4 linked regions of the Homo sapiens genome follow. The protein of the gene in region 2 purifies or fractionates together with the protein of the main gene of each other region. This does not show direct contact. Each region holds a gene or a part of one and is shown on either strand. Other genes may lie near its edges.

What was found.
Region 1: the proteins of ITGAD (region 2) and LMAN2 purify together in Homo sapiens (affinity purification with mass spectrometry; one large-scale study listed by BioGRID and IntAct). This does not show direct contact.
Region 3: the proteins of ITGAD (region 2) and JAG2 purify together in Homo sapiens (affinity purification with mass spectrometry; one large-scale study listed by BioGRID and IntAct). This does not show direct contact.
Region 4: the proteins of ITGAD (region 2) and SLC25A19 purify together in Homo sapiens (affinity purification with mass spectrometry; one large-scale study listed by BioGRID and IntAct). This does not show direct contact.

The regions. Positions count from the first base shown.
Region 1 is NC_000005.10:177,338,169-177,342,561, reverse strand, and holds part of LMAN2 (vesicular integral-membrane protein VIP36 precursor), read left to right. Parts: intron 1-3,956; coding exon 3,957-4,074; intron 4,075-4,393. UniProt on the Homo sapiens protein: Plays a role as an intracellular lectin in the early secretory pathway. Interacts with N-acetyl-D-galactosamine and high-mannose type glycans and may also bind to O-linked glycans.
Region 2 is NC_000016.10:31,399,127-31,404,414, reverse strand, and holds part of ITGAD (integrin alpha-D isoform 2 precursor), read right to left. Parts: intron 2,301-5,288; coding exon 2,170-2,300; intron 916-2,169; coding exon 770-915; intron 1-769.
Region 3 is NC_000014.9:105,162,277-105,166,669, reverse strand, and holds part of JAG2 (protein jagged-2 isoform a precursor), read left to right. Parts: intron 1-4,393. UniProt on the Homo sapiens protein: Putative Notch ligand involved in the mediation of Notch signaling. Involved in limb development.
Region 4 is NC_000017.11:75,282,934-75,287,326, forward strand, and holds part of SLC25A19 (mitochondrial thiamine pyrophosphate carrier), read right to left. Parts: exon of another isoform or gene 3,982-4,393; intron 3,870-3,981; 5' UTR 3,832-3,869; coding exon 3,700-3,831; intron 3,527-3,699; coding exon 3,371-3,526; intron 661-3,370; coding exon 490-660; intron 1-489. UniProt on the Homo sapiens protein: Mitochondrial transporter mediating uptake of thiamine diphosphate into mitochondria. It is not clear if the antiporter activity is affected by the membrane potential or by the proton electrochemical gradient.

The sequences.
Region 1 (4,393 bases), on a different chromosome or scaffold from region 2:
GGCATGCGCAGTCAGGCCCAGCTAATTTTTGTATTTTTTTGTAGAGACAGGTTTTCACCGTGTTGCCTGGGCTAGTCTTGAACTTCTGCGCTCTGGTGATCCACCTGCCTCAGCCTCCCAAAGTGTTTCAGATTACAGGTGTGAGCCACTGCAACCGGCCAGGTTTGAGCTCTTAAGTTTAGATCTCTGATCTTTATATACTTATTATTATTTTTTTTTATAGAGATGGAGTCTTGCTGTGTTGCCCAGGCTGGTCTTGAACTCCTTGGCTCAAGCAAACCTCCCATGATGGCCTCCCAAGGTGCTGGGACTACAGGTATGAGCTACTGCACCTGGCCTCTTTACTTTTCAAATTAAACTTTTTATTTTGACATAATTATAAATTCACATGCCGTTGCAGGAAATAATACAGAGATCCTAGGTGCCCTTGGGTTTTGTTTTTTTATTTAGCATTTAGTCCATTTACATTTAATGAAATATGATACATTTGGGTTTAATCTGCTATCTTACTCTATATATTCAAATTGCCTATTCTCTGTTCATTTTTCTCTCTAGTCTTCTTTTAGGTTAATTTTTATTATCCTATTTTTCCTCTTCTATTAGCTTGAAAGTTATATGCTCTTTTCTCAGTTTTAAGTGGTCACCCTAGAATTTAAAGCAGGCATTCATGTTGTACCAAAGACTAATGATAATGTGTACTTTACCTTCTTCCTGGACAGTGCAAGGATCCTAACACACTTTAACTCCATTTATTGTTGTCATTTGTTTTAATTATTTCTGTTTTAAATCACACAACCCATTGTTTTGTGCAGTCAGATATTTAGATTTTCACCCTTATAGTCACTGTATTTGTTGTTCTTCGTTCCTTCTGGAATCTGACTTTACATCTGGATGGGGATCATTTTCTTTCTCCCTGAAGAATGAAAGTGTGAGTCTGCTAATGAATTCTTTTGGTTTTTGTTTGTTTGTCTCAAAATATCTTTATTTTACCTTCATTCTTGAAGGATACATTTGCTGAGTATAGAATCCCATGCTGGCTGTTACCTTCCTGTATCTCCAAACATATCAGTCATCTGCCTTCTTGCTCCCGCTGTTCCCGCCGTGAAGCCGGGTGTCAGGCTGATTATTGCTCCTGTGAGAGTCATTGCCTTTTTTCCCTCTGGTTCCTTTTTCTTTAAGATTATTATTTTTTTTATGGCCGGGCGCGGTGGCTCACGCCTGTAATCCCAGCACTTTGGGAGGCCGAGACGGGCGGATCACCTTAGGTCGGGAGTTCAAGACCAGCCTGACCAACATGGAGAAACCCCGTCTCTACTAAAAATACAAAATTAGCCAGGCGTAGTGGCGCATGCCTGTAATCCCAGCTCCTCAGGAGGCTGAGGCAGGAGAATCGCTTGAACCCAGGAGGCAGAGGTTGCAGTGAGCCAAGATCACGCCATTGCACTCCAGCCTGGGCAACAAGAGCGAAACTCTGTCTCACAAAAAAAAAAAAAAAAAGAAAAAAAAAGGCTGGGCGTGGTGGCTCACATCTGTAATCTCAGCACTTTGGGAGGCTGAGGTGGGCGGATCACAAGGTCAGGAGATCGTGACCATCCTGGCTAACACGGTGAAACCCTGTCTCTACTAAAAATACAAAAAAATTAGCCGGGTGTGGTGGCGGGCGCCTGTAGTCCCAACTACTGGGGAGGCTGAGGCAGGAGAATGGCGTGAACCCGGGAGGCAGAGCTCGCAGTGAGCAGAGATTGTGCCACTGCACTCCAGCCTGGGCGACAGAGTGAGTCTGATTTTTTTTGAGAAAGAGTCTCACTCTGTTGCCCAGGCTGGAATGCAGTGGCACAATCTCGGCTCACTGCAACCTCCACCTCCCAGATTCAAGCAGTTCTCCCGCCTCAGCCTCCCAAGTAGCTGGAATTACAGGCATGTACCACCACGCCTGGCTAATTTTTGTATTTTTAGTAGAGACGGGGTTTCACCATGTTGGCCAGGCTGGCCTCAACCTCAAGTGATCCACCTGCCTCAGCCTCCCAAAGTGCTGAGATTACAGGCGTGAGCCACTGCACCCGGCCAAGATTCTCTGTTTTTAAGGAGAACAATAGACACTCCAGACTAGATGGGGGAGGACGTGGGTTGAAAAACTACCTATTGGGTACTGTTCTCCCTGCCTGGGTGCAGTATACCCATGTAACCTGCACATGTAGCCCCTGTATCTAAAATAAAAGTTGAAATTGAAAAGAAAGAAAAAATGCTTTTGTGGCACACGTTCTCAGGATTGCCTGGGGCTGTACCACGGGGAAAAAAATTAGAAAAAAATAGTTTCATGTTAAAAAAAACTTTTTTGTTGTTGTTGCTGTTTCCTCTATCCCTCCCTTCTTTTTTTGTGCCTAAATATGGTTTTCTTTTTAGTCATCTCCTTTGGTTTGTAGGACTTTTCAAGTTTGTGGCGTGTCTTTGAATCAGTTTTAGTAAGTGCTTAGACGTCTTTAAATATTCCTTTGCCTTCATTTCTCACATCTTACTCGGGAATCCCAATTATATGAGTCTTAGCCTCTCTCACTGTTTCCTCTGTCTCTTACCCACAATTCTATATCTTCCATTCTTTTGTGCTCTCGGGGACTCGGCCTAGGTTTTGTTATCTGGGTTCCTGGTGCCCAGAGTGGGAGCAGTGAGTCTGTGGCATCAATGAATGCATGAAGCATATTGCTCAAATTGGGGTACAGTGTTTTTTATTTTTCTGTGATCACAGAAGTAATATGTTTATTATACATTATTCAAACATGGTAAACAGTCGCCATAATCCCCCTCCCAGAATTACCCATCATTAATACTGGTTCATGTTCCTTTACTCCTGTATTCATTTCTCTTCATGCTCATCTGCATTGGACGTTAATGGTCTTTTTCACAGTTGCCAGTCTGACAGGTCAACATCCTGTTTGGGTTTGCCTTTGTGATGGGTCTTTGTTTAATCACTTGCTTACATACCCATCTGCAGACTTCCTGAAAGTGGATTCTTGTCACCGTGTGTGTTGACACCTTAGTTTTCACAAGCGACTTCCTGATGCCTAAGGCAAGGCTTTCTCCCTTGGCGTAGGCGGTGCCCATCCCTGCCCCAGCTCACATGGTGGTGCCCTTGAGTCCCAGAGCACGACCCTGACCAGCTCTCATCCCCAGCGCTGGTACCACACTTAGGCTGGGCTGGGGAGGTGAACTGGTGAAGGGCTGGGTTTTGGAGTCAGCCAGACCTGGGCTTGAGGCCAGCAGCACTGACCCGGCCTGATTTTCCTCACTTGGGAAGGTTGGTTAGCAGGGTGGATGTGGCAGTGGATGTGGGTGACCAGAAAGGGGCTGGTGCAATTTATGTGAAAGGCCTGCAGGCCGCGGGAAGTACTGAAGGCAGAGCAGAGCTCTCGGAGTCAGAAAACCCTGCATGTGAATCCAGACAGTCCGCTGAGCAGAGCTCTCGGAGTCAGAAAGCCCTGCGCGTGAGTCCAGACAGTCCACTGAGCTGCTCTGGACAAGTTGTTACACCTCTGAATTTGTTTTCCTGTAAAATACTTTGCTCAAATAGGAGTTGTAACGTCTGCAGAAGGTTCCAGGGCAAGAGCAGTGGATGGAGAGGAAATGGCTGGTGGGTTTGGCTGGTAATGAGGGTGAACAGTGTGGCAGCCACCTAAACCTACTCAGGAGCAGCCTGAGGTCTGCTGGCGGGGTCTGGGCCTCAGGCAGCCTTGGAACACTGGCCTCCCCCACCTCACCTGGTGCCCAACAGTCTCTTCCCTTCACGGCCAGAACATTTAGGGGTCTGTGGTCAGTGGCACTTGTGGCCCTGTGCCAAGGAGTGCCCAGTCTTAGCTGGGGAGAGAAGAGAGGTCTGTGGGGCAGGGGCCGTGCTGGGGTTGCCTCCAGCTTGCTGGAAGGCCCTGGGGAGCTCTGAGCAGCCCATTCTGCTCTCCCTCCAGCCGTGCTTCCTCAAAGACTGGGAAATGCACGTCCACTTCAAAGTCCACGGCACAGGGAAGAAGAACCTCCATGGAGACGGCATCGCCTTGTGGTACACCCGGGACCGCCTCGTGCCAGGTGGGCTGGTGTTCGCTCAGCTGGGCCCTGTGGGGGTGGGCACGGGCATGGCTGCTGGCCCCCTAGGGAGGTGGGGTGGGGCTGCCTGTGGCTCGTGGGGACCAGCGTCTCCTCTCCTGTTAGGAAAGTGCTGCCTCCCGTGGATAAAGTCCTGCGCCTCCGGAAGGAGCCTGGCTCTGGAAGGAAGGTCACTGAGGGGAGAGGAGCAGCTGGGTCCTGCAGCTCAACCCTACACCCTCATTGGCCTGGTTTTACCATTTTAAACAGTTATTGTTGTAAAAAAGCCAAAACATGAAGACTGTGTGGCTGTGACTGCATG
Region 2 (5,288 bases):
TCTAGCACCACCCCAGGGCTGCTCCCAGGGGTGTGTGCAGGAAGCCAAGGATCCCCGACCGTCAGCCCAGCTCCTTCCTACAAGAACCACATGCCTTTCTCGGGGGTCCCACCTCCTACATCGTTTTAGGAATAGACTGCATGTGCACGGGGCAGGCCCACGGTGAGTGCCTGGGTAGCACAGGGGGTGCGCAGGGGTGAGGGATGCGGGAGAGGAGGTGAGTGGGGAGAAAGGCACCAGGACGACCTTGGGTGACAATTCCTGAGTCCCTGACTACTCCATTCTCTGATAAAACCTCAGGCATTTATCCGACACCTCCTACGTGCCCCGGGCTGAGCACCCCACACACATGATCTCAATCCTAAGCTGTGAGCTTATCTTCATCTGAGAGTTACTGAGACTTAGAGCCCATCACCCCAGGGTTACACCCAGAGTAGCTCACGGGGAGCCAGGATGGGAGCCTGATGTGTCTGAGCCAAAGCCCGGGCCTCTGGCTGCTGTGGGGTGGGGAGGGGTCCTGGGGTCCAGGCTCTGCAGAACCAGGCAAAGGGGAGGCATAGCTGCAGAGGAGCCTAGTCCTATATCAGGGAGACTGGCAGCGAGGCAACCAGGAGCACCCCGGGGGGAGGTTCTCCCTGCAGCCCCGACATGCCCCTTGGTAGCCCCTTTCCCTGGAGCCTCCCTCAGCCTCTGAGAAGAGCTGTGCTGACCCAGGGTTAGGAAGTGGGGGTGGCAGTCACATCGCCAGGCTGGGGTCGGGGTTGCTTACACCACTGTCAGGATGCCCGTGGCCGTGAACGTCAGGCCTTTCAGTTGGACGATGGGATCCACCAGGCTCTGCTGGCTCGGGCTGGTCCGGAATTGGGTGAAGGTGAAGTGGATCTTCAGGAGGTTTGAGTACTGCATCAGTGCAAACTGCAAAGGCCAGTGGGGAGGGCCCAGGGCTCAGTGCCTGTTACTATTGTTTTTATTTTAATTTTTTGTAGAGACAGGGTCTCTCAAACTCCTGGCCTCAAGTGATCCTCCTGCCTCAGCCTCCAAGTAGCTGGAACTACAGGCACACGTCACATGCCTGGCTTTGTTTTTTGTTTTGTTTTGTTTTTGGTAGAGACAAGGTCTCACTATGTTGCCCAGGCTGGTCTCGAACTCTTGGCCTCAAGCAATACTCCCACCTCAGCCTCCCAAAGTGCTGGGATTACAGGTGTGAGCCACCACACCAAGCCATATTGTTTTCAGTTTTAATAAACTTTATTTTGGAATTATTTTGGATTTACAAACCATTTCCCATGTGTTTTGAAGCCCTACAAATAATATACTGAAACCCAGAGAAGAAAATTCATTGGCCCAAAAATACAAAATATAAACTGGAAAATCTAAACCAAATGATATTTCCTTCACAGTTTATTAAAAATAACTTTGCCAACCACAATATTTGCTACCCTTAGCTTTTTAAAAATTTTATCACACATTAAATCAATTTGTGTATTTCCTCCCTTCTCAAGAATTTGTGGCTGGGCGTAGTGACTCATGCCTGTAATCCCAGCACTTTGAGAGGCCAAGGTGGGAGGGTTGTTTGAGCCAGGAGTTGGAGACCAGGTTGGGCAATATAACAAGACCCCATCTCTACAATAAAAATTTTTAAAAATTAGCCAGGCATGGTGGCATGCACCTGTAGTCCCATCTACTCAGGAGGCTGAGGAAAGAGGATCACTTGAGCCTGGGAGATCAAGTCTGCAGTGAGCTATGATTGCACCCCCACACTGCAGCCTGGATGACAGAACAAGACCCTGTTTAAAAAACAAAACAGTGGGGTTTTTTTGCACATACATAGGCACTAGTTATGGGAAAATAAAATAATAAAAAGAAATCATTAGTTACATAGAAAATATGTCAGTCAAATTCCATAGCAAAATTATTTTTTAAACACTTTCAATGTTTTTAAACAGCAGAAACATTGTATTTCCTGTAGCTTTTGGATACATTATTAAATGCCAAGAGGGCCTCCTAGGTCAGGGCTCAAGTTGGGCCTGTGCTGGGACCATAGCTTCATTCTCCACCCCAGCCCCATCACACACGGCTCACTGGCCTGCCCCCACCCCTCCCGGGATGCCTCCCCGAGGCCAGCCTCCCCCGTCCCCCAAACCCCAGCCCCAGGTGCCCAGTCTTCACCAGGGTGTCAGTGCCCTCAAACTGGCCCATGACAGCTTGGACAAAGCCCTTCATCTGGTTAAAGTCATTTTGGTCAATGCTTCCAGAGCCGTCAATCAGGAAGACGATGTCCATCTCTTGATGTGGACACTCTGTGGGGGAATGGGGAGGAATCGGAGATGCACTGCGGGGGCCCAACCCCCTCCTGCAGCTCCTGCTCAACAGAGCCCGGGGGCTGTTCTTGGCATCCCCACCTAGTTTCCGACCCCTCCTTGGAGGAGGCCCCAGTCTGCCACCCCAGCCCCCTGCTCCCTTCCTCCCACATGGCCTGGAAAGAGAGGGATGACAACACAGGACCCAGGTGGGCTCCTCATCCATTTAATCAACAAATATTCATTAAACACAGATGCTAGGGGTGCCACAAGCATCAAGGGCGAATGTTTAGCAAAGTGGTTCAGGGCGCGTGTTCTGGAGCCAGTGTGCCTGGGCTAAACCCCAGCTCAGCCACGTGCTAATTGGTGAATTCAGGCACATTACTTAACTTCTCTGGACTTCAGTGTCCCTATCTGTAAAATGAAGGTAATATCAGTGGCTACCACGTGGGATCACTGCAAGGATAAAGCAACACGCACATGGGTGCTGGAGACAAGTCCTGGCCCTCTGCCAGGGTCAGCCGCTGGCACCATTCTCACCACGTGCCAGGCACCTTCGAGGCCTGTAGGATATGCCTGTAGGGATGCTGTGGGGGTGGGGCAGGGATCCACCCCAGACCCCACCCTACCCCCAGTCGGTCAGAGGTCCTTATTTCCAGCTACGTGGAGTTGGCTCTGAGCTGAGTCCCTTCCCAGGAATCACGCTAGGCAGAGGGGAACTGTTGCCCACTGGGACACCTCCTGCCCCTGGAGGAAACCTTTACCGATGACTGGTTCAGCGTCTGAAGGGCCAGCTGCACTCTGAGCCCCCCAGGCATTGGCTGAGGCCTCTGGTTTTTTCATTTTTTGTTTTTTTGAGGCAGAGTCTCACTGTCACCCAGGCTGGAGTGTGGTGGTGTGATCACAGGTCAGTGCAGCCTCGACCTCCCCAGGCTCAGGCAATTCTCCCACCTCAGTCTCCTGAGTAGCTGGGACTACAGGTGTGCACCACCTTGCCTGGCTAATTTTTGTATCTTTTTGTAGAGACGGAGTTTCGCCATGTTGCCCAGGCTGGTCTCAACCTCCTGGGCTCTAACGATCCACTCACCTCGGCCTCCCAAAGCACTGGGATGACAGGCAAGCACCCCAGTGCTGACCTTGGGCCTCTGTTATGATTGCATTGCATCCACCCTTCATGCTCCCATGGGTGCGGTGCCCAAGAATATTCCCAGTTGGGAGTGGTGGCTCACGCCTGTAATCCTAGCACTTTGGGACGCTGAGGTGGGCGGATTACTTGAGGTCAGGAGTTCAAAACCAGCCTGGCCAACATGGTGAAACCCCATCTCTACTAAAAATACAAAAAAATTAGCCCGGCATGGTGGCGGTGCCTGTAATCCTAGCTATTTGGGGGGCTGAGGCAGGAGAATCACTTGAACCTGGGAGGTGGAGGCTGCAGTGAGCCAAGATTGTGCCACTGCACTCCAGCCTGGGCGACAGAGTGAGACTCCGTCTCAAAAAAAAAGAACATTCCCAAGTGACCTCAGAGTTTGTGGAGTTCACTCTGCAATCGTGAGGGCACATCATATGCACATGAACAAATAAGACTTTTCATGCTGTCCCCAGGCTCATGGGGGGTGTGTGGCCTGTGTTCAGGGCCCAGTTGGTACCTCCACCAGCAGCCACATCCTGTGCTGCCCGCAGGGCACTGGGAGATCAGGCCACCAGAGCACTAAGGTGTGAGGCCCACACCACAGGGCTGTGGTTTCTGCCCCCTGCCCACCACTGCAGAAAAAAAAAATGCCTTTTCCTCTTTCCTCTCCCCTACCCCACTTGCTCAACCACTGGTGCTTCAAGGGTGCTGGGGAGAAACAGAAGGTCACTTCCTTCCTGCTTCTTCAATCACCAGCAAATCTTGACATCCATGGGGCAGGCTGCAGATCCCCCCAGGAGCTCCCCGTTTTTTGCCCACATCTGGGCAGCCAACATCTTGCAGTGGTGCCTGTTTTTTCAGCTGCGTCAAGAAACCACCCTCTCATCCTCTCTCAGGCCAGGTCTGTGGCAAATCCTCTCACAATGTCTCTTCTGTTTCTTGGTCTTTTTATTGTATCCCCTGGTCTCCCACTAGCAGAAGCCTGGACTTATCCTTTTGAAAAAGGACCCCACCAATCAGGCAAGGATGGCTCAAGCTCTGGGCTCTGCCTCTTGCTATCGATGGAACTCATCTATCTGAACCTTGGTTTTCATATCTGTAAAATGAGAATGGGCCTGCCCGCCACCCAGGATGTTGTGAGGATGCAATAAGGTGATTCATACCAGGTATTCAGCACTGCTTGGCACACAGGTGATCCTCAGTGGACCCTGGTCCCTTCTACTTGGACCCACACCCCCCTTGCCTGCACCAGTTTTGTGCTCCAGTCCCATTTGCATCAGGCATCCCACCTCATGAGTTCCACGGATGGCTGTGAGAAGACATTTACCCCTTGTTTTTAAGTGCCACCTCCCTAACCTGGCTTCACAGACATCTCAGGCTGGGCACGGTCCCCCCAAGAACCCTGGATGTCCCTTCCCCCTTCCCTTGGTCCCCTCCATAGACTCCACCCTCACCATTTGCTCTGGTAATGTTTCTGCTGCTGCTCCACCTTTGTCTAAAGGCCCAGCATGCCTGTCATCATGGCCTCTCTGGTCTGAAGCCCCACCCTCGGTCAGCACCCTGAGCGGCCCCTGGCATTCCCTCTCACACGGCAGATGAGACAGTTTGCCTGTATCTTCCTCCCAGTCCCAGCATGCAGTCCCCAGCTGGAAGATGGGTCAGAGGGGCTATCACATACTATGTGCCAGGCAGGGTTCCAAGTGCTTTATGCACCTCAATCCCTTTCACCTTCATAACCCCCTGATTATTGAGCTCTATTTTACCAATGAGGAAACTGAATGGCTTTGAGGGAATGAAGCTTCAAGGGAATGAAGCCTGGTGCCCATGGAAAACAAACTTGGGAACCACCATGATGCAGA
Region 3 (4,393 bases), on a different chromosome or scaffold from region 2:
CCCAGTCCTGTGCTGTACCTTTGCAGCCCTGGCTGGCAGCCTTGCCTGCTGCCCCCATCCTCACCGCTTCCTGAGCTCCCACCCGTGGAAGCTGGCCACAGTCTCCTCTGGCCATGTCCTCAACCCGTGAGCACCCCGCCGAGTATCCCTTGACCAGGGGGGCCCCAGAGAGGGGAAAGTGTCCCCCAGATGGAAAAGGCAGGGGCGGGCATGGGAGGGCCCAGGCAGTTGTGAGAAGCCCAGCCCCTCGCCCCCACGGCGGTGCAGCAGGCAGGTCTGAGCAGGGCCCGCAGCCTGTCATCTGCACCTGGGCCTGAGCCAGCGTGGCCCCACATCGCTACCTGAGGATGTGTTTTCTGCTCGAGTTGGCAGCAGTGGGTGTGGGGGCAGGGAGGTCTTGGAGGAATGTGGCGGGCTATCGCGTGTCCGCCCTGGCTCTTCGCCCCGCGGGCCAGCCGGTCAGGTGTGGGATGGGACCGGGTAGGCCCTTGCCTTCCTTGGAGTCCGGGCACTGGGTTTCGGGGCCAGCTCACCTCCCTGCCTCTTGCTTCCAGCCGGTTCCTCGAATGCCCCAGGAGGGGGCAGGCGGCCTGTCTCTGGGTTGGGGGCCAGGGCAGAGTCATAGCTGCGTGTTTGGGGGCAGCCCTGGTCTCCTGCCATGTGGCCTGGCTGCCGGGCGGGAGCTGTGCCGTGATGCCAGCACCCTGGTATTTGCACTCGGGCGGCGGCAGTCCCTGGCCATGCTGCCCTGGCTTGCTGAGGTCCAGCTCTGTGCGGTGAGCTGAGGTGTACTTGGCTGTGATGGGAAGGCAAGGACCGAGTTCAGGCTCCCTGGGACCTGAGGAGGGGTTTCAGCCTGGAGGCTAGGGTGGCATCCTGCCCAGGCCCGTGGGGCTTTTGGGCTCCTTGGAGTAAAGGGAATGAGAGGGCCTTGTGGAAGAGGAGTGGGGGAGTCTGGGCTCTGCATTCGCTCCCTCCACCCCCTGCCCCCTGAGTGACTCTCCCACCTTGTGGTCTCTGCTGTTGACCCAGGCCTGGCTGGGTGGCCCTCTGCCCCCTGGCCTGGCTTCTTGTGGCCGGGGTCTGTGTGCTATTAGTCATGGATCTGTGCTGGTCTCGGGCTCAGCTTCCCTCAGTGGGTGGGCCCAGGGTCTTGAATGTGGAGAGGTGGTGGACCACATGCCAGCAGGCTGCCTGGCTGCCCCTCCTCTCCTGGCTCCACCCCCAGACGTCCCCAGGAGGCCGGTGTCAGCCTGGGTTGGTTCTGGTGCCTGGCTTGTAGCTGGCAGGGTGAGGCCACATTCTCCCAGCTGCGTGTGTGCACGCACCCCGGGTGCTCTGTAGGCATGGCAGGTGGTGATGGAGGTTTGGGGAGGAGTAGTGTCATGCTGGGGGCAGCAGGGAGCTTTGCTCTGGGGCCTGGTAGGTGGCAGGCCCAGGGGACACCTGCTGGCTGAGGGAGGAGCAGGGTGGTGGCAGTTGGCCGTGACCTGGGCAGCCAGGGCCCCACCCTCAGAGGTGCAGCTGGAAGTCGTGCCTGCCTGGCTGGCCCATCTCTGGAGCCAGGAGCCCAGGAGCCTGCCTGCCAGCGAGGGTCTTTCTTGTTCTGTCTTGGCATGTGTGTGCTGGGCTCCAGGGCAGCTGTGCGGGGTGGTGTGGCTGGAGCATGGTCCCCGTGACAGATCTGGGCTTATGAGGAGAACGGGATGGGTGAAGGCCCTGTAGATACAGGAGGTGGGCCTGGGGCTGACCCTGCGTCTATCAGCTCAGGAGGCCTGAGGTCCTGGGCCATCAGAAGGGCTGAGCTTTTCTCACCTGTGAAAGGGGCACACTGCCGCTTTTTCATTGCAGGTCTCACGAAGTCAGATGGGGCTGCTGGACTCCCAGCTCGGGCTCTGCTTGTGCCCCCAGCCCGGCTCCCAGACCTGTCCAGTTCCTCCCCTTCCCAGCCTTCCCTACCCTCTCCTTTGCCCCCTAGGGAGGAAGGTTTTTACAGAGCCCACCCCCTGCATCCAGCCGCCCTAGGGCTCAAGGTGGGCCAGGCTGAGGTCTGTGCCTGGAGCTACCTAAGCTGCTCGTGGCAGGTGTGAGGTTCAGCACCACTCTGCTTCCTGTTTTTTCTGAGCTTGGGCTGGGGATGACAGGGCCCTGGCCTCCCCACCCTACCTTCAGGGGATCCTGTCTGCACACTGGGGACCACCCCCCTCCTTCCCACACCTTCCCAGTAGGGACCAGGAGAGCTGGCTGGTCTGGTATGGAATGTGGGCATCTGGGTTCCTGTGTTGGGTGGGCATCGGTCTGTTCCTCCTGCCATGGCCCTGGGGCCCAGAGCCCTGGGGAGAACTCAGGGCATGTCCGCCTTGTACATTGGGGGTCTGGTTCAAAGCTTTGGTATGGGGGCAGGGTGGGGCATTCAGTGCCCAGGCAACACGGGGACCATTGGAGCCAGGGAGGACTGCCCTTGGCCAGGGAGGATTGGAGAGTGGGCTGGGGGTTTGTCGCTGGTCCCTGAGGGTGGGCTGAAGGGTCAAAGCCGCAGCACGATAGGAAGGCTGGGAGGTGGAGGGGCGGGTTGGGGAGCAGGCGGCAGGCCTGGGTGGGAGGGGACTGCTGCTCTCAGGGGCCCTCCTGGGCTGCTCCATGGTGTCTTTATGAGGGGAGCAAGCTAGGCCAGTGAAGGGGTGCTTGTGGAGCCAGGCTTCGGCCTGAGCTGCTGCTGGTGGTGGAGTGGGGGCAGGAAGACAAGGATCTGCAATCCCAGGCCCCAGCCACAGTCGCTATCCCCAGACCCCAGGCCTGAGCGGGGTCCCTGTCCCCAGACCCTAGGCCTGATTGGAGTCCCTGTCCCTAGACCCCAGGCCTGAGTGGGGCCCCTATCCTCAGGCCCCAGGCCTGAGCTGGGTCCCTGTCCCCAGGTCCCAGGACTGAGCAGGGTCCCTGTCTGCAGACCTGAGGCCTAAGCAGGGTCCCTGTCCCCAGACCCCAGATCTGAGTGAGGTCACTGTCCCCAGACCACAGGCCTGAGCGGAGTCCCTGTCCTCAAGACCACAGGCCTGAGCGGAGGCCCTGTCCCCAGACCACAGGCCTGAGCGGAGTCCCTGTCCCCAGACCACAGGCCTGAGCGGGATTCCTATCCCCACATCCCAGGCCTGAGCAGGGTGTGGCTGGCATCAGTTGTACCCTGGGCTTTGTGGCAGGTGCTAGCCGGCCCTGGCTGCCACCGTCTTCACGGTGGGGGACCTGGGACCTAGAGGGGGTGTGCTGGGGAGTGGGGGTACACCCAGGCAAGGCCCTGGCTGGTCTCTGGTGTGGAGCATGGGTGTGTGTGTTCCTGCGTGGGATGGGCTTTGGTCTGCTCCTCCTGCTGCGGCCCTGGGGCCCAGAGCCCTGGGGATGGTGTTTGCCCCCACCCCTTCTTCCCTGCCTCGGGTGACAATGGTGGCAGAGGCCTGGGCCTCTCAGAAGCTCAGGTTTCAGGAAATGTATCTGTGCTTGGAGCTCCTGGCGCCTGCACCAAGCGCTGTGCTCCGTAGGGGGCGGGAGGCTGATGCGGGAGGCCGAGGAGAAGAAACCAAGTCGGGGCGTTGGTGGGGCAGCAGGTCTAGGAGGCTGTGTTGTGTTGGCCTGGACCGTGCAGGGCCCTGGACCTGGGGGGGCCGTTAGCGGGGCAGCAGGGAGGCTGTGTTGGCCTTGACCGTGCAGGGCCCTAGACTTGGGTTGCCTGAGTTTTGGGATGCTGTAGATTGGGGTACAGTGGGCAGTGGGGTGCCGTGGACTTAGGGTGCTTGGCATTTGGAGTACCCTGGGCCATGAGGTGTGCTGGGCCATGCAGTGCCCTGGGCTGGGGGTGCCCTGGACCTGGAGTGCCCTGAGCTTTGGGGTGCCCTGGACTGTGGGTACACTGGGCCATGGGGTGCACAAGGCTGTGGGGTGTACTGGATCTAGGGTGCCCTGGGCAGGAGGGTACTCTGTACTTTGGGTGCCTTGGACCTGAGGTGTCCTGGGCTTTAAGGTGCCCTGGACCTTGGGGTGTGCTGGGCCATGCAGTGCTTTGGGGCTCTGGGGTACCCTGGGCTTTGGGGTGCCCTGGAACTGGGGTGCCCTGGGTCTTGGAGTATGCTGGGCCATGCAGTGCCCTGGGCTGTGGGATACTCTGGGCTTTGGGGTGCCCTGGACCTGGGGTACCCTGGGCTTTGAGGTGCCCTGGCCTGGGGTGGAACATCTATTGTCTTGTCTGCCTGTCCTCTGGCTTGTGCCACTGCTGTTGCCCCTGCCTGGGGACAGGAGGAGGGGTTTAGACTTAGCCTTGAGGGTTCGGGCTGGGGAGGAGGCAATCAGATGGTGGGAGATGAAGTTGGGCTGCGGGTCTGCTTGTGCGGTGGGGGTGGGTCAG
Region 4 (4,393 bases), on a different chromosome or scaffold from region 2:
AAAAATAGATCGCACCACTGCACTCCAGCCTGGCAACAGAGCGAGACTCTGTCTCAAAATAAATAAATAAATAAATAAAAAATAGGCCGGGCGCAGTGGCTCATGCCTGTAATCCTAGCACTTTGGGAGGCCGAGGCGGGCGGATCGTGAGGTCAGGAGATCGAGACCATCCTGGCTAACATGGTGAAACCCCGTCTCTACTAAAAATACAAAAAAAATTAGCCAGGCGTGGTGGCGGGTGCCTGTAATCCCAGCTACTCGGGAGGCTGAGGCAGGAGAATCGCTTGAACTCGGGAGGTGGAGCTTGCAGTAAGCCAAGATCGCACCACTGCACTCCAGCCTGCATGACAGAGCGAGATTCTGTCTCAAACAAAACAAAACAGAACAAAACAAAAATAAATAAATAAATAAATAAAAAATAAAGAATGCTACCCCTGTGACAACACCTTCCTTATTTGGGCTTCCCCGGTCTGGCTCCTGGCCACTCACCTTGGGCTCACCCTGAGCTGCAAAGCGGGTGCGCAGAACATCCACGGGGTGCACAGTGAGGGTGGCCATACAGGCAGCCAGGCCACCACATACAAAGTGCACTGAGAATTCCCGGGCGTCATACACGCTGCCTCTGTGGACCAGCTCCGTCAGCATTTCAAATGACAAGAACTGCAAGAGTAAGTGAAGAAGTCACCGACAGCCCAAAGGATGAGGGTGAGGACCAAATACTCCCCAAATACATCACCCGTGACCCGGCTGGGGCCCAGGTGGAGGGGCGAGGAAAAGGTCAGGAAATGTTCTTCTTGAGCAGTGACAGCATATGATAAATACAACATTCTACGCAAAACTCGGATGCCATTTGATACTTGAGTAGAGTCAGACACTCAAAGGGTTAAGAAGATATATGGGGGCCAGGTGCAGTGGCTCACACTTGTAATCCCAGCACTCTGGGGGGCCGAGGCGGGCAGATCACGAGGTCACAAGTTCGAGACCAGCCGGGTCAACATAGTGAAACCCTGTCTTTACTAAAAATACAAAAATTAGTCAGGCATGGTGGCGGGCACCTGTAGTCCCAGGTACTTGGGGGGCTGAGGCAGGAGAATCACTTGAACCCGGGAGGCAGAGCTGCACTGAGCCAAGATCATGCCACTGCGCTCTCCAGCCCGGGCGACAGAGCAAGACTCGGTCTCAAAAAAAAGACTGGGTGCAGTGGCCCACGCCTGTAATCCCAGCACTTTGGAAGGCCGAGGTGGGCAGATCATGAGGTCAGGAGTTGGAGACCAGCCTGGCCAATATGGTGGAACCCTGTCTCTACTAAAAATACAAAAATTAGCCAGGCATGGTGGCGTGGGCCTGTAACCCCAGCTACTTGGGAGGCTGAGGCAGAAGAATCGCCTGAACCCAGGAGGCGGAGGTTGCAGTGAGCTGAGATTGCGCCACTGCACTCCAGCCTGGGCAACAGAGTGAGACTCTGTCTCAAGAAAAAATAAAAAAGATACATGAGAACAATGTATATCAGAAAATGTCACTGGCTAACTTAGTTTTCTGAGAACTGGGGAAGACGGCCATGCTCTGATTCCTGCAGGGACCCCTTCAGTGCAGCTGGCGGCGGCACCTGGTGGCGGCACTGTTCGAGAATCATTCTTTTCTGGGGCAGATTCTTTTGGGAGCATGTTCCACAGGGTGACCCCCTTACATTCAGATCTTTCTTTTTTTTTTTTTTTTTTTTTTTTTAGGGACAAGAGTGTCTCTCTGTCACCCAGGCTGGAGTACAGTGGCACAAACACGGCTCACTGCAGCCTCAACCTCCTGGGCTCCAGTGATCCTCTCACCTCAGCTCCTCAAGTAGCTGGGATTACAGGCGCATGCCACCATGTCCAGCTAATTTTGGTATTTTTTGTAGAACCAGGGTTTCACTATGTTGCCAAGGCTGGTCTCAAACTCCTGAGCTCAAGCAATCTGCCCGCCTTGGGCTCCCAAAGGGCTGAGATTACACACATGAGCCACCGAGCTTGGCCCTGTTTTGCTTTTTGAGGCAAGGTCGTGCTCAGTTGCCCAGGCTGGAGTGCAGTGGCTCGATCACAGTTCACAGCAGCCTTGACTTCTCTAGCTCAAATTATTCTCCTGCCTCTGGAATAGCTGGGACGACAGGTGTGTACCACCATATCTGGCTAATTTATTTTTTATTTTTAGTAGAGAGGAGGTCTCCCTAATGTTGCCCAGGCTGGTCTCAAACTCCTGAGCTCAAGCCATCCTCCCACCTCAGCCTCCCAAAGTGATGGGATTACAGGTGTGAGCCACTATACCAGGGCTATGCTCAGATCTTCCTTCAGCCAACTGAAGATGGCCTGGCTTCTTTTCTTTTTTTGAGACAGGGTCTGGCTGTGTTGCCCAGGCTGAAGTGCAGTGGCATGATCGTGGCTCACTGCAGCCTCCGCCTCCCGGGCTCAGATGCTGGGATTACAGGTGTGAGCCACTGAGTCCAGCCCACGCCTGGCTTCTTGAGACTATCCTGTTGCTGTATTTATTCGTCATGCTGCAATATCTGTTTGCAGACAAGTGCAGAGACAGGATCGCAGGGCATGCCCAGCCAGTAAGCACCTGACTTGGGCGGTCACTGTGATGTCACAGGAAGAGTAGGAAGGGACATCTCTGGCACTAGCTGCCTAGGTGGGGGTCGTGGCTCTGCCATTTTCTAGCCAGTGGCTTTGGTTGGGTTAATTATGTAAGCTCTGTCCACCTCAGTCTTCTCATGCATGACATGGGAGGGACAACAGCCCCTACCTTAAGGACTGCTGTGACAGAGTGTATGTGAAGTGCTTCCAACAGGGGCCTGGCCCATGGTTTGCACTGTACAGGGCTGGTTCTTAAACACATCTACTGCATAAAATCACATGCTGTGCACTATGACTATACTAGTGCTCCACTGAACGAAGCATGAGTTCTAACCCTAGCCCCGCCATGTGCAGGCTGTGTGGCCTCGGACAGCTGACTTCTCCTCCCTGAGATCCACATGACAGCTACCCTGCCCTCCTCATGACGGTGTGGTGAAGTTCAGATGAACCACATATGTGAAGGTGGTATTTCAAAAACTGAAATGCATTAGTGCTGTCCTTCGCCAAGCCTCACAGAAGGCATGACATCAAATCGGTCTCCAAGATGCAACACCTAAGTCACACAGGATAGACGCAGGGACATGGCGGAGGGCAATGCCTACGGTACTGCTGGTCAGGAAGGCTCCCGGGTGAGGCAGGTGGGAAGCGTGGGGCCTGCCTCTTCCGTCCTGCCCTGCGCGGCATTCCTGCTTGCCTCACCCTCCCTCTGCTCCTCCACTGAGCAACGTGACCCCAGAGGTCTGGCCAGGTCCCTTGCCACCTACTTGGACAGCTCCATAGCCTATGGAGAGAATCTGAGCTGGGACGTGTCCTTTCCAGAAAGCTGTCGGACCCTCCTCCTGCAGAATCTGCCTAGAGGCCTGGAGGATGCCATGGTACTTTGCGCTGGGGTCACTGCGAGACAGGCGCTCATGCTGAAGCTAGGAATCAAAATAAAAAAGGTCAGGACAGTGGGGTGGGCTGGAATGTGAAGGGGAACTTTCAGAAAAGGCAAGCCCTTCATCTGGATAGAATTCCAAGTTTTAGGAACTGCTTTTGCAAGAAAGACTGAACTTGTCCTCCAGTCCATTGCATGGAAAAAGGGGAAGAGTACCTGGAAACGGATCTTGATGACGTCGAAGGGACTGATCAGCGCCCGAGTAACAAGTCCAGACACAGACCCAGCCACTGCCACCTGGAACTTGGTGTTATTCCTGCCATCTGGTTTGGGGTCATAGCCAACCATCCCTGCCTCTGGCCCACACAATGTCCATCAGTATCAAGCTAAATGCAAGAGATACGGAATAAACACCAGGCAAGTTTCTTATGGTCTCTGCTCAAATATCACCTCCTCAGAGCAGCCCTCCCTGACTAGACTGTCTAAAATAGCACTCACTTTTGGACTGGGCGCAGCGGTTCATGCCTGTATCCCAGCACTTTCGGAGGCCGAGGTGGGTGGATTGCTTGAGCTCAGGAGTTCAAGACCAGCCTGGGCAACACTGCAAAACCCCAACTCTACAAAAAATACAAAAATTTAAAAATAAAATAAAATAGCACTTGTTTTATTCCTCTTTACAGTACTTATTACTATGGCATATTTGTTTACTTTTTTAGAGACAGGGTCTCACTCTGTTGCCCAGGCTGGAATGCAGTGGTGCCATCATAACTCACCATAGCCTTGAACTCCTGGGCTCAAGTGATTCTCTTGCCTCAGCCTCCCAATTAGCTGTCACTTAACAGGTGCAGGCCTGGCTAAGTTTTTTATTTTTGTAGAGATAAGGTCTCAATGTTGCCCTGGCTGGTCTCGA